2 linked regions of the Homo sapiens genome follow. The protein of the gene in region 2 purifies or fractionates together with the protein of the main gene of each other region. This does not show direct contact. Each region holds a gene or a part of one and is shown on either strand. Other genes may lie near its edges.

The links. The genes of interacting proteins can lie anywhere in the genome.
Region 1: the proteins of TULP3 (region 2) and TTC21B purify together in Homo sapiens (affinity purification with mass spectrometry; 6 studies listed by BioGRID and IntAct, with this or other methods). This does not show direct contact.

The regions. Positions count from the first base shown.
Region 1 is NC_000002.12:165,946,580-165,951,454, reverse strand, and holds part of TTC21B (tetratricopeptide repeat protein 21B), read left to right. Parts: intron 1-1,730; coding exon 1,731-1,860; intron 1,861-1,950; coding exon 1,951-2,061; intron 2,062-3,133; exon of another isoform or gene 3,134-3,420; intron 3,421-3,529; exon of another isoform or gene 3,530-3,567; intron 3,568-4,113; exon of another isoform or gene 4,114-4,258; intron 4,259-4,875. UniProt on the Homo sapiens protein: Component of the IFT complex A (IFT-A), a complex required for retrograde ciliary transport and entry into cilia of G protein-coupled receptors (GPCRs). Essential for retrograde trafficking of IFT-1, IFT-B and GPCRs.
Region 2 is NC_000012.12:2,917,432-2,922,306, reverse strand, and holds part of TULP3 (tubby-related protein 3), read right to left. Parts: intron 1,545-4,875; coding exon 1,385-1,544; intron 46-1,384; coding exon 1-45. UniProt on the Homo sapiens protein: Negative regulator of the Shh signaling transduction pathway: recruited to primary cilia via association with the IFT complex A (IFT-A) and is required for recruitment of G protein-coupled receptor GPR161 to cilia, a promoter of PKA-dependent basal repression machinery in Shh signaling.

The DNA.
Region 1 (4,875 bases), on a different chromosome or scaffold from region 2:
TTTTTTATTCCATTAACATATGGGATGCAGAGGAACTTATTTTTTTCAGAATAGAACTCTTATACTATGATATCTTAATTAATTCTCACAGTGACCTGTACATTTGCATTACTAACAGCATTTTATAAATGAGCAGACTGAGGCGTTGTAAGAAGGACCAGAGATTCTTTTTGCCTTTAAATTCGCGTCCTTTTTATGGTGCTATGCCACTGCCTTTCAGGAGGATTATAGATGCTTAGTGATAGTGTGCAGAAGTCAAGTAAGGTATTAAACGTGTCCTTAGTTGTGGCAAAGTAAGAAGTCATTCTGCAACTTTAGGGAATGGAGCATTGGAGGAAAACTGTGTTTCACTGAAATGTGTTGTGGGGGTCTGGAGATGGGGTATGGAGCACACTTTTAAGAAACATGGCTAAAAAGGAGGTTAGGGAGCAGTGATCACAAGGAGGGAGGCAGAGTAAAATTACAGAGAACAGTCGCCTAACTGATCTAGAGAAGTACATGGACTATAGCCCTCCAGAAGCAAGAGACTATATAAAACAGAGCTGTCGGACGGGCGTGGTGGCTCACGCCTGTAATCTCAGCACTTTGGGAGGCCCAGGCGGGTGGATCACTTGAAGTCAAGAGTTCAAGACCAGCCTGGCCAACATGGGGAGCCCCATCTCTACTTAAAAATACAAAAATTAGCCAGGTGCGGTGGGGTGTGCCTATAGTCCCAGATCAGGAGGCTGAGGCAGGAGAATCGCTTAAACCTAGGGGGCAGAGATTGCAGTGAGCAGAGATTGCGCCACTGCACTCCAGCCTGAGTGACAGAATCTCCAAAACAAAACAAAACAAACAAACCAGAGCTGTCTAGATACCCTTAGATTTCAATCCTGTCACTTAGTCACCTGTATTTCTCACTGCTACTGAACAAGCTGTAGAGTCCAGGTAGGTAGGTATGGGGTGGCCCAAACTGCTTTCTGGTGAATCAGGTGTATCCTAGTGATGGTGGGAAAGTGTGGTTTCTGTCTTTGATGAGGTTAGCAACCAAGCCTTAGACATAATCGTAGGAAAAATGGTAGACAGCACAGGCCCATTTTTATTCAGAAGTTAGTAGGTCCTGATAGTAGTTTTGTCTTGTATATGGAAATAATATAACTTTGGAAAAAGCTTAAAGACAACGATTTTCATTGAAAAATAGTTTATTTATTCTTAACTGACAATTTATTTGTCGCAGAACTCAAAGCCGAGTAAGATAACATTTGATGATATGTTGAAGAATTAAATTTGTCATTACTTTGTAATGCTGTAATAAAATACTGGATATTTTAAAAAGAAGATTTTTTTTTTTAAAGAAACCTATGGTCTGGCAATGGAAGCCTCTTGTCTTTTTTTTTTTTTTTTTAGTTCCTGTTTATTGTCTGCCTTTCTGTTTTCTAAAACGTTCAAGAAAATGTGGGCAAAGGAAAAAAGGTGAAAGCAGCCTCATTTCGGTGCTGTTAACAAAAACTTAGGAAAAATAATTTAAATTATTAGAAAACATTGAATTATTTCAGTAATTTTATGATCATTCAGTTCTGCAATCCTTAGCATTGAGTTCTAGCCATTAATAGTATTTTAAGAAACTTGGAAGAAAAAAGTCACATTGCCTGAATTTTACATTATTCTAGATGTTAGATTATTATCTGCTTCTTAGAGTATTTCAGAGCACCAGAATTCCTTTATAACATTTTTTCATTATTTCCATTTAGACTTTGATTAATTACTATTGTCAAGAGAGATATTTCCATCATGTATTACTGGTTGCCAGTGAAGGAATTAAGAGGTATGGAAGTGATCCAGTCTTCAGGTTTTATCATGCCTATGGCACATTAATGGAAGGTACGTGTTAATCATTAAACATGTTCCATCAGTTTTAAATTCTTGCTTTGCACTAAGAACAGTTTTTCATATCATAATCTTGATTTTCAGGTAAAACTCAAGAAGCTCTTCGAGAATTTGAGGCTATTAAAAATAAACAAGATGTATCACTTTGTTCTCTACTTGCACTGATATATGCCCATAAAATGAGTCCTAATCCAGGTATGATATTTAAATGCAATGCTTAGGACATTTTTTCCTATTCAGTTTATTTTTATTTTTCTCAGTTACCAAGTCATTCAGTCTGATCACACTATATTATGTATTTTCTGTAGGTACAATTTATACATATGTTTATCTTCCTGACAAGGGTGTAAATTCATCAGGCACAAGAAATGTGTCTTATACTATTTTCGTGTTCCTTATATCCTCTGGCAGAGGTTTCATTAGTACATAGGGATTTTTTTAGATAAAAGGGAATGTATATTAGTAATTGTTACACAAAAAAAGGACAGCCAAAGAAACAGGTACCGTATGTACATAAATTGCTCTGCAGCAGCCAAGTTTACAACTTTTGTGCAAATATACAGCCAATGCAGTTTATTTCTGTATATTAAGCTTATTGAGAGCCTTAAAACCCTTTATGAGGGCTAGCTCTTGGGAGATATTCAGCAAATTTTTATGCAGTAGTAGGTTGACTAGATTCTGACTAGATTATAGAAGGAAATTTATACATAAACCAGCAATTAAAGTTGTGTAAACTGCCAGGCACAGTGGCTCAAGCCAGTAATCCCTGCAACTTGAGAGACTGAGGTGAAGGATTACTTGAGCCCAGGAGTTCGAGGCCAGCCTGGGCAACATAGTTAGACCTCCATCTCTAAAAAAAAACAGAAAATAAAAAATAAAGTTATGTGAACTGTCTTAATGTATAGTTAATGGCGAAGGCAGAAGAGTATCCAAATTGTATGTAATAAAGAAGAAGTAGTGTTATATTCTTCCATAAATATATATCCAGTAACAGCTAATAGGATTGTAAATATAGATTGTGTTTCAAAAAATTACATAATAAACAAAGGTCACAGACTGGTTCCTTGAATATTAGACGAGACTTTTTTCTAAAGCCAAGTATGACATACCTCCTTCATACATATGCAAATCAATACAAAGTTATTTAAAACATGTAAATATGTGCTTAATTTCTTCAAGAAACTGTGCCTAATACAGTTACAAGCTACAAAAGAATTCTAATAAGTGGTTCATGTCATCAAGTTGGTAATCTAGTGGAGAAAACAAAATGTAAAAAACACAAAGATTAAATTCCAATGTTTCTATTAAATAATACAAAATGAAACATGAGTTTATAATTAATTGAAGTTGGTATGCACTATTCAGCTGTAAGAGTAGGCTGAGAAGGCTTTTGAAATTTTGGAACTTAATCTGATCTTTGAAGGACTGGTAGAATTTGAATATGAAGAGTATTGGCCAGAGAGGAGAAATGGATGGGCAAATACATGGAAGTGGTTCAGGATTAGGCTCTTCTGTGGATCCCCTTTCTCCGTACTCCAGTGGGAGTGTGTTTAGCTAGAGCAGAAAATTTTCATGGGAGAGCTGTAGTTAGTATAGATTGAAGAAATTAGTACAAAATAATTTATTATTAGAATCAAGTTTTTATTTAATTGGTTATTCTTACCAGTGTTGATTCTGTTGGACACTGTGATTTGCAGGACACTGAAATGACAGAATCAGAAATACTGTTCAGAGGAACCTGAGTGCTAACTCTGCTTTGCACCAAGGATGATGCTGAATGGACTTGAGCTCTAGTAGGGGCCCAGATGTCTGTAAATACTGCCTAGGAAAGTCCTAGATTGTTAGTATACATTCCTTCCAGGATGCTGATGTAAATAAACCCTGCTTATAAAAAGGCTGCGATCTTTCAACAACTTTGTGCAGACGGTGTTAGAGCTGATTGATACCTCATTAGGGACGTGATGGAAATCTGAGTAGGAAAGATTTCCTGTACAATGCCTGCTTCTGCCTGGTGGTTGTTTTTTTTGTTTGTTTGTTTTCTTATTTCTGTTTCTGTATCATGGCTGTTTAATGAACACTTCTGAAGGGGTTGTAGGGGTGGGGAGTGGGGAGAGGAGAAAAGGGTCTTCTTGCTAAGCAATCTGTAGACTTACAGAAACAGTTTTGTTTCCTTCACTCATTAGATTGTACCTTGTTAATTTCACATTTAAATTTGTATCATTAGAGTTGAAAGGAAGAGTCACATACCTTTCTCTTGGTAGCCATTCCAGAAAGAGAACTGTTGGAATCACAGGCCGCAACTTACATTTCTTCTTCCTCATTGCATGGCTGATTCTGATTCTGATTCCATCCAGGGTTTGGGTGTAATTGACTTCTGTGTCCTAAGCAGATACTAATATATATATATATATATATATATGGGGGAGGGGAGAGAGAGAGAGAGAGTGTATAGACTTAATGTAAGTGAATAGAGTTATCTATTTAAGGGAGCAGTCAGTATTAAACTATAACAGCAATTATGCCATCTTTTTACTGACCCATAACAGTAGCTGGCATGTTTATATATTTTAGAATTGTATTTAAGAATTATTAATACGTTGAGTACCAGTACTGGACCTGTTCCTAATAATTGTGGTTAGAACCATTATACATTTTTATAAGTCTTATTATTAAAAAATATTAGTATATACAGCCTTTCTATTTTGGGAATGATGTAAACTCTATAGCTATATTGTGCATTACAGTGATCCTTAACCATATACCTCCTCTGTTGCCCAGGCTGGAGTGCAGTGGTGCAATCTAGGCTCACTGCAACCTCTGCCTCCTGGGTTCAAGCAATTCTCCCTGCCTCAGCCTCCCAAGTAGTTGGGATTACAGGCACCCACCACCACGCCCATCTATTTTTGTTTTTTATTTTTAGATGGAGTTTCGCCATGTTGGCCAGGCTGGTCTCGAACTCTTGACCTCAGGTGATCCACCCACCTCGGCCTCCCAAAGTGCTGGGATCAC
Region 2 (4,875 bases):
CATGAACTTCGTCTGGTTTCAGGACAGCAGCTGGACCATCAATACCTAAGGGCCAAAATAAAATGAATTTTAAAAAAGGAGCAAAGTATTATTCACTAGTTGGGTAGATTTGGCATATGTGATCAGAATTAAGAACTACCAAATCATTTTATCTGCCCTCCTTTCTTAACATCCATAAGAACATTTGTTAAGAGAGAAGGTCAGAACTGGTGTTCTTTTTTTCTGAGACAGGATCTCACTCTGTCACCCAGGCTGGAGAGCAGTGGTGTAATCACAGCTCACTGTAGCCTCGACTTCCTAGGCTCAAACGATCCTCCCACTTCAGTCCCCCGAGTAGCTGGGACTACAGGTGTGTGCTACTACACCTGGCTAATTGTTAATTTTTTTGTAGAGATGGAGTCTTGTTATGTTGCCCAGGCTAGTCTCAAACACCTGGCCTTAAGTGATCTGCCTTTCTGGCCTCCCAAAGTGCTGGGATCACAGGTATAAGCCACCACGCCCAGCCTGGTGTTCATTTTATTAACATGCTCTGTTACTAAAGTCATATGTACTTGTACTTCAGTAACTGAAGTAATATGTACTTCAGAAACTTAAGAATGAGACCAAGAAAACAAAGTAGGTCCTCCATAGTACAGATCCTGTACAAGCCAATAGCTCCAGTGGCTTGATTTAGAGGCACTTACAATCTTATTCTTCCTCCGCCCCTCCCCATCTCAGATGATCCTTTCAACTATCTGTTGGAAGAATGGACGCTCTCTACCTATTCCCGGCTTCATGATTCACCTCTGCCACGATTTAACAATCAAGAGCTCCTCAAATAGGTCATTCTAAACTCATTCATCTGGCATCTAGAAAACAACAGTTCTTGCCGGGCATGGTGGCTCAAGCCTGTAATCCCAGCACTTTGGGAGGCCAAGGCGGGTGGATCACCTGGGTCAGGAGTTCGAGACAAGCCTGGCCAACATAGTAAAACCCCGTCTCTACTAAAAGTATAAAAAAATTAGCCGGGCATGGTGGCAGGCGCCTGTAAACCCAGCTACTCGGGAAGTTGAGGCAGGAGAATCACTTGAACCTGGGAGGAGGAGGTTGGCAGTGAGCCAAGATCGCGCCATTGCACTCCAGCCTGGGCGACAAAAGCAAAACTCCGTCTCAAAAAAAAGAAAACAACAGTTCTAAAATGGACGCAAACCTTAAGGCATCTTCCACTGATTATATCATTGCTTTTATTCTCCTCAAAGACCCCAAATGTGATTATAAAGATTTATGAAGGTACCTAGTAATGGTGCTAATAATATTGTCCCTTTGGTCCGTCTGACAATCCTCGTGCCTTCTAGGTTTGTGAAAATTGTACCCCACTAGGAAGTGATGCTGCCTAAATACACACCATGTAAGATGACATTGCTGTGGGGAGTATGACAGTTCACCAAGGGAGTCTGCTCATCACTGGCCCTTGGCTTTGCCCGACGTAGCCTGGCTTCTGGATTGGGCTGCACCATAAATGGCTCAAGGCGCTTTTTCCTTTGCCTCTTCTCAAGTAGTAGCCTCTGGGAAAAAAGCGATATGACAGCCAGCAAGGAGAGTTTTGACATGACCTAACCATTTCCAACATGCCCAGTTTGTTTTTCACTGATCCTCACAAAACATCTTGTAAATTATTTTTTCCCCATTTAAGAAATGGGAAAACTGAGGCACAGAGAGGAGTAAGGATTCAATCATTTCATTTAACAAATACTTTTGAACACCTAACACCTATAAAGATCTATTTAAAATCAGATGATGCTTTTTTTTTTCTTTTTTTTGAGACAGAGTCTCACTCAGTTGCCCAGGCTGAGTGCAGTGGCACCATCACAGCTCACTGCAGCCTTGACCTCCAAGGCACGCCCAATCCTTCTGCCTCAGCCTCCTGAAGAGCTGGGACTACAGGTGTGTGCTACCATGCCCAGCTATTTTTTGTATTTTTGTAGAGACAGGGTTTCCCGACATTGCCCAGGCTGGTCTCAAACTCCTGAGCTCAAGCAGTCTGCTTGCCTTGGCCTCCCAAAGTGTTGGGATTACAGGCGTGAGCCACTGCACCTGTCCCACACAGTGCATTTGTAACCAAGTCTACTAAAGATGTATGGGAATCATCATAGCATTATCAAATGTGACCACAAGCTCAAAACATACAAACACACATGCACGGAGGACAGATGGAGGAACACAGCAAGGGTGGTTTCTTCAGGTGGCAGACTATGGCATGATTGTTTTCTCTTTTCTAGTCTTTTTTTTTTTTTAAGTTTTCTTACTTTTGTAAATGGAAGAAAAAAACTTTATTATTCTCTAAAACTCAAATTATTTCCATGTTCTAATTAGTCAAAGGGCAGTAAGTTTGGCATTCTTGTTTATCTTATATAATTAGAAATCAAATTTGGATCAAGGGTGAGAAGAAAAAAATGGCAGTTGGAACATATCAAATAGAAAGCAGTCAACTCTATGAATAAAAGCAAGATAAAGACTATGGTAGCAAGAAAAGTCAGGAAACAAGCATGACAGACTATGAGAAAAAAAAACCAATGAAATGGAAAGGAAGGTACTAGCACATAGTACTAGTACCTTTTGGCAAATAAGGGTTTATAATATATAGAAATTATTATTGATCTGGGATAACTCAGAGTAGGAAAAATGTTAAGCCCCATGCTAAAAAATAAAGACATGATTAAAAAACAAATATATTATAACCCACTTACTACTGTTTTTCAGGCAAAAGAAGCCATCTGTTTACTTTTTTCCATCGATACTGTTTTAGAAAAGTGCCTCCAGGAAGAAGAGTCACTCCAAGGGGTGAGACTATCAAAAAAGGAAGTGTGTTTTTCCTGAACTGGGCTGATGAGAGCACACTGATTAATTCAATAGCTTGCATATAGAGGGAAAAGATTGGGGAGTTAAGATAACGTGCCAATACAGAATATACCATCAAGAATGAATAGGTGTTAGAGCAAGGACTAAGTTGTTTGGAGATTATTTTGAGATTTCATGAATTACCATGAATAGAAGGACATTAACCCAGGAACACTAAATACACAGGAGGCTATAATGACTTCCACCAAACAGAATTGGCCACTGAGATTCTTCTAGCAGCCGGGCGCAGTGGCTCACGCCTGTAATCCCAACACTTTGGGAGGCAGAGTCAGGTGGATCACTTGAGGTCAGGAGTTTGAGACCACCCTGGCCAACATGGTGAAACCCCGTCTCTATGAAAAATACAAAAATTGGCCTGCGTCATGGCGCATGCCTGTAATCCCAGCTACTCAGGAGGCTGAGGCAGGAGAATCACTTGAACCCAGGAGGTAGAGGTTGTGGTGAGCTGAGATCATGCCACTACACTCCAGCCTGGGTGACAGAGCAAGACTCGAGACTCTGTCTCAAAAAAAAAAAAAATTCTTCTAGCAACCAAGAGGTCTTGTATAATGGATAAAAAGTAACTTGCTGGCCGGGCACAGTGGCTCATGCCTGTAATCCCAGCACTTTGGGAGGCTGAGGCGGACGGATCACCTGAGGTCGGGAGTTCAAAGCCAGCCTGACCAACATGGAGAAACCCCGTCTCTACTAAAAACACAAAAATTAGCCGGATGTGGCGGCGCATGCCTGTAATCCCAGCTACTCGGAGGCTGAGGCGGGAGAATCGCTTGAGCCTGGGAGGCGGAGGTTGCGGCGAGCTGAGATTATGCCCCTGCACTCCAGCCTGTGCAACAACAGCAAAACTCCATTTCAAAAAAAAAAGTAACTTGCCTGAAAAGGTGGTAAATATGAAGTACTGAAATCATAAGAAACTGCCATATCTTATCTATGTGGCCACAGCTATTTCATCTCATACATAGTCTGTGAAATGATCGATGAAACAAAATCACATACTGTAGGCTGGGCGCGGTGGCTCACGCCTGTAATCCCAGCAGTTTGGGAGGTCGAGGTGGGCGGATTACCTGAGGTCAGGAGTTTGAGACCAGCCGGGCCAACATGGTGAAACCCCGTCTCTATTAAAAAATAAAATTAGCCAGGCGTGGTGGCAAGCGCCTGTAATCCCGGCTACTTGGGAGGCTGAGGCAGGAGAATCACTTGAACCTGGGAGGCAGAGGTTGCCGTGAGCCGAGATTGGACCACTACACTCCAGCCTGGGCGACAGAGCGAGACTGTCTCAAAACAAAAACAAAAACAAAAATGAATGCTGTAGCTATTTTTTGAGACGGAGTTTCACTCTTGCTGCCCAGGCTGGAGTGCAATGGTGCAACCTCAACTCACTTGCAATCTCTGCCTCCTGGGTTCAAGCAATTCTCCTGACTCAGCCTCCGGAGTAGCTAGGATAACAGGCACCTGCCACCACACCCAGCTAATTTTTTTTGTATTTTTAGTAGAGATGGGGTTCACATGCAAGGAAAATATTTTCTTTTTTTTTTGAGACAGAGTCTTGCACTGTCACACAGGCTGGAGTGCAGTGGCGCGATCTCGGCTCACTGCAAGCTCCGCCTCCCGGGTTCACGCCATTCTCCTGCCTCAGCCTCCCGAGGAGCTGGGACTACAGGCGTCCGGCACCGCGCCCGGCTAATTTTTTGTATTTTTAGTAAAGATGAGGTTTCACCGTGTTGGCCAGGATGGTCTCGATCTCCTGACCTCATGATCCGCCCGCCTTGGCCTCCTAAAGTGCTGGGATTACAGGCATGAGCCACCGTACCTGGCCAAGGAAAATATTTTCTATAGAAAAGGAGTTTTCTGCTGTGGTCTAGAAAAGGGAGGCCAAAGAGCTAGAATTTGATAGGGTTATCAGGTTTGTCCAAGAAAGAGAAGTATCTTTTTTTTTTTTTGAGACAGAGTCTCGCTGTGTTGCCCAGGCTGGAGTGCAGT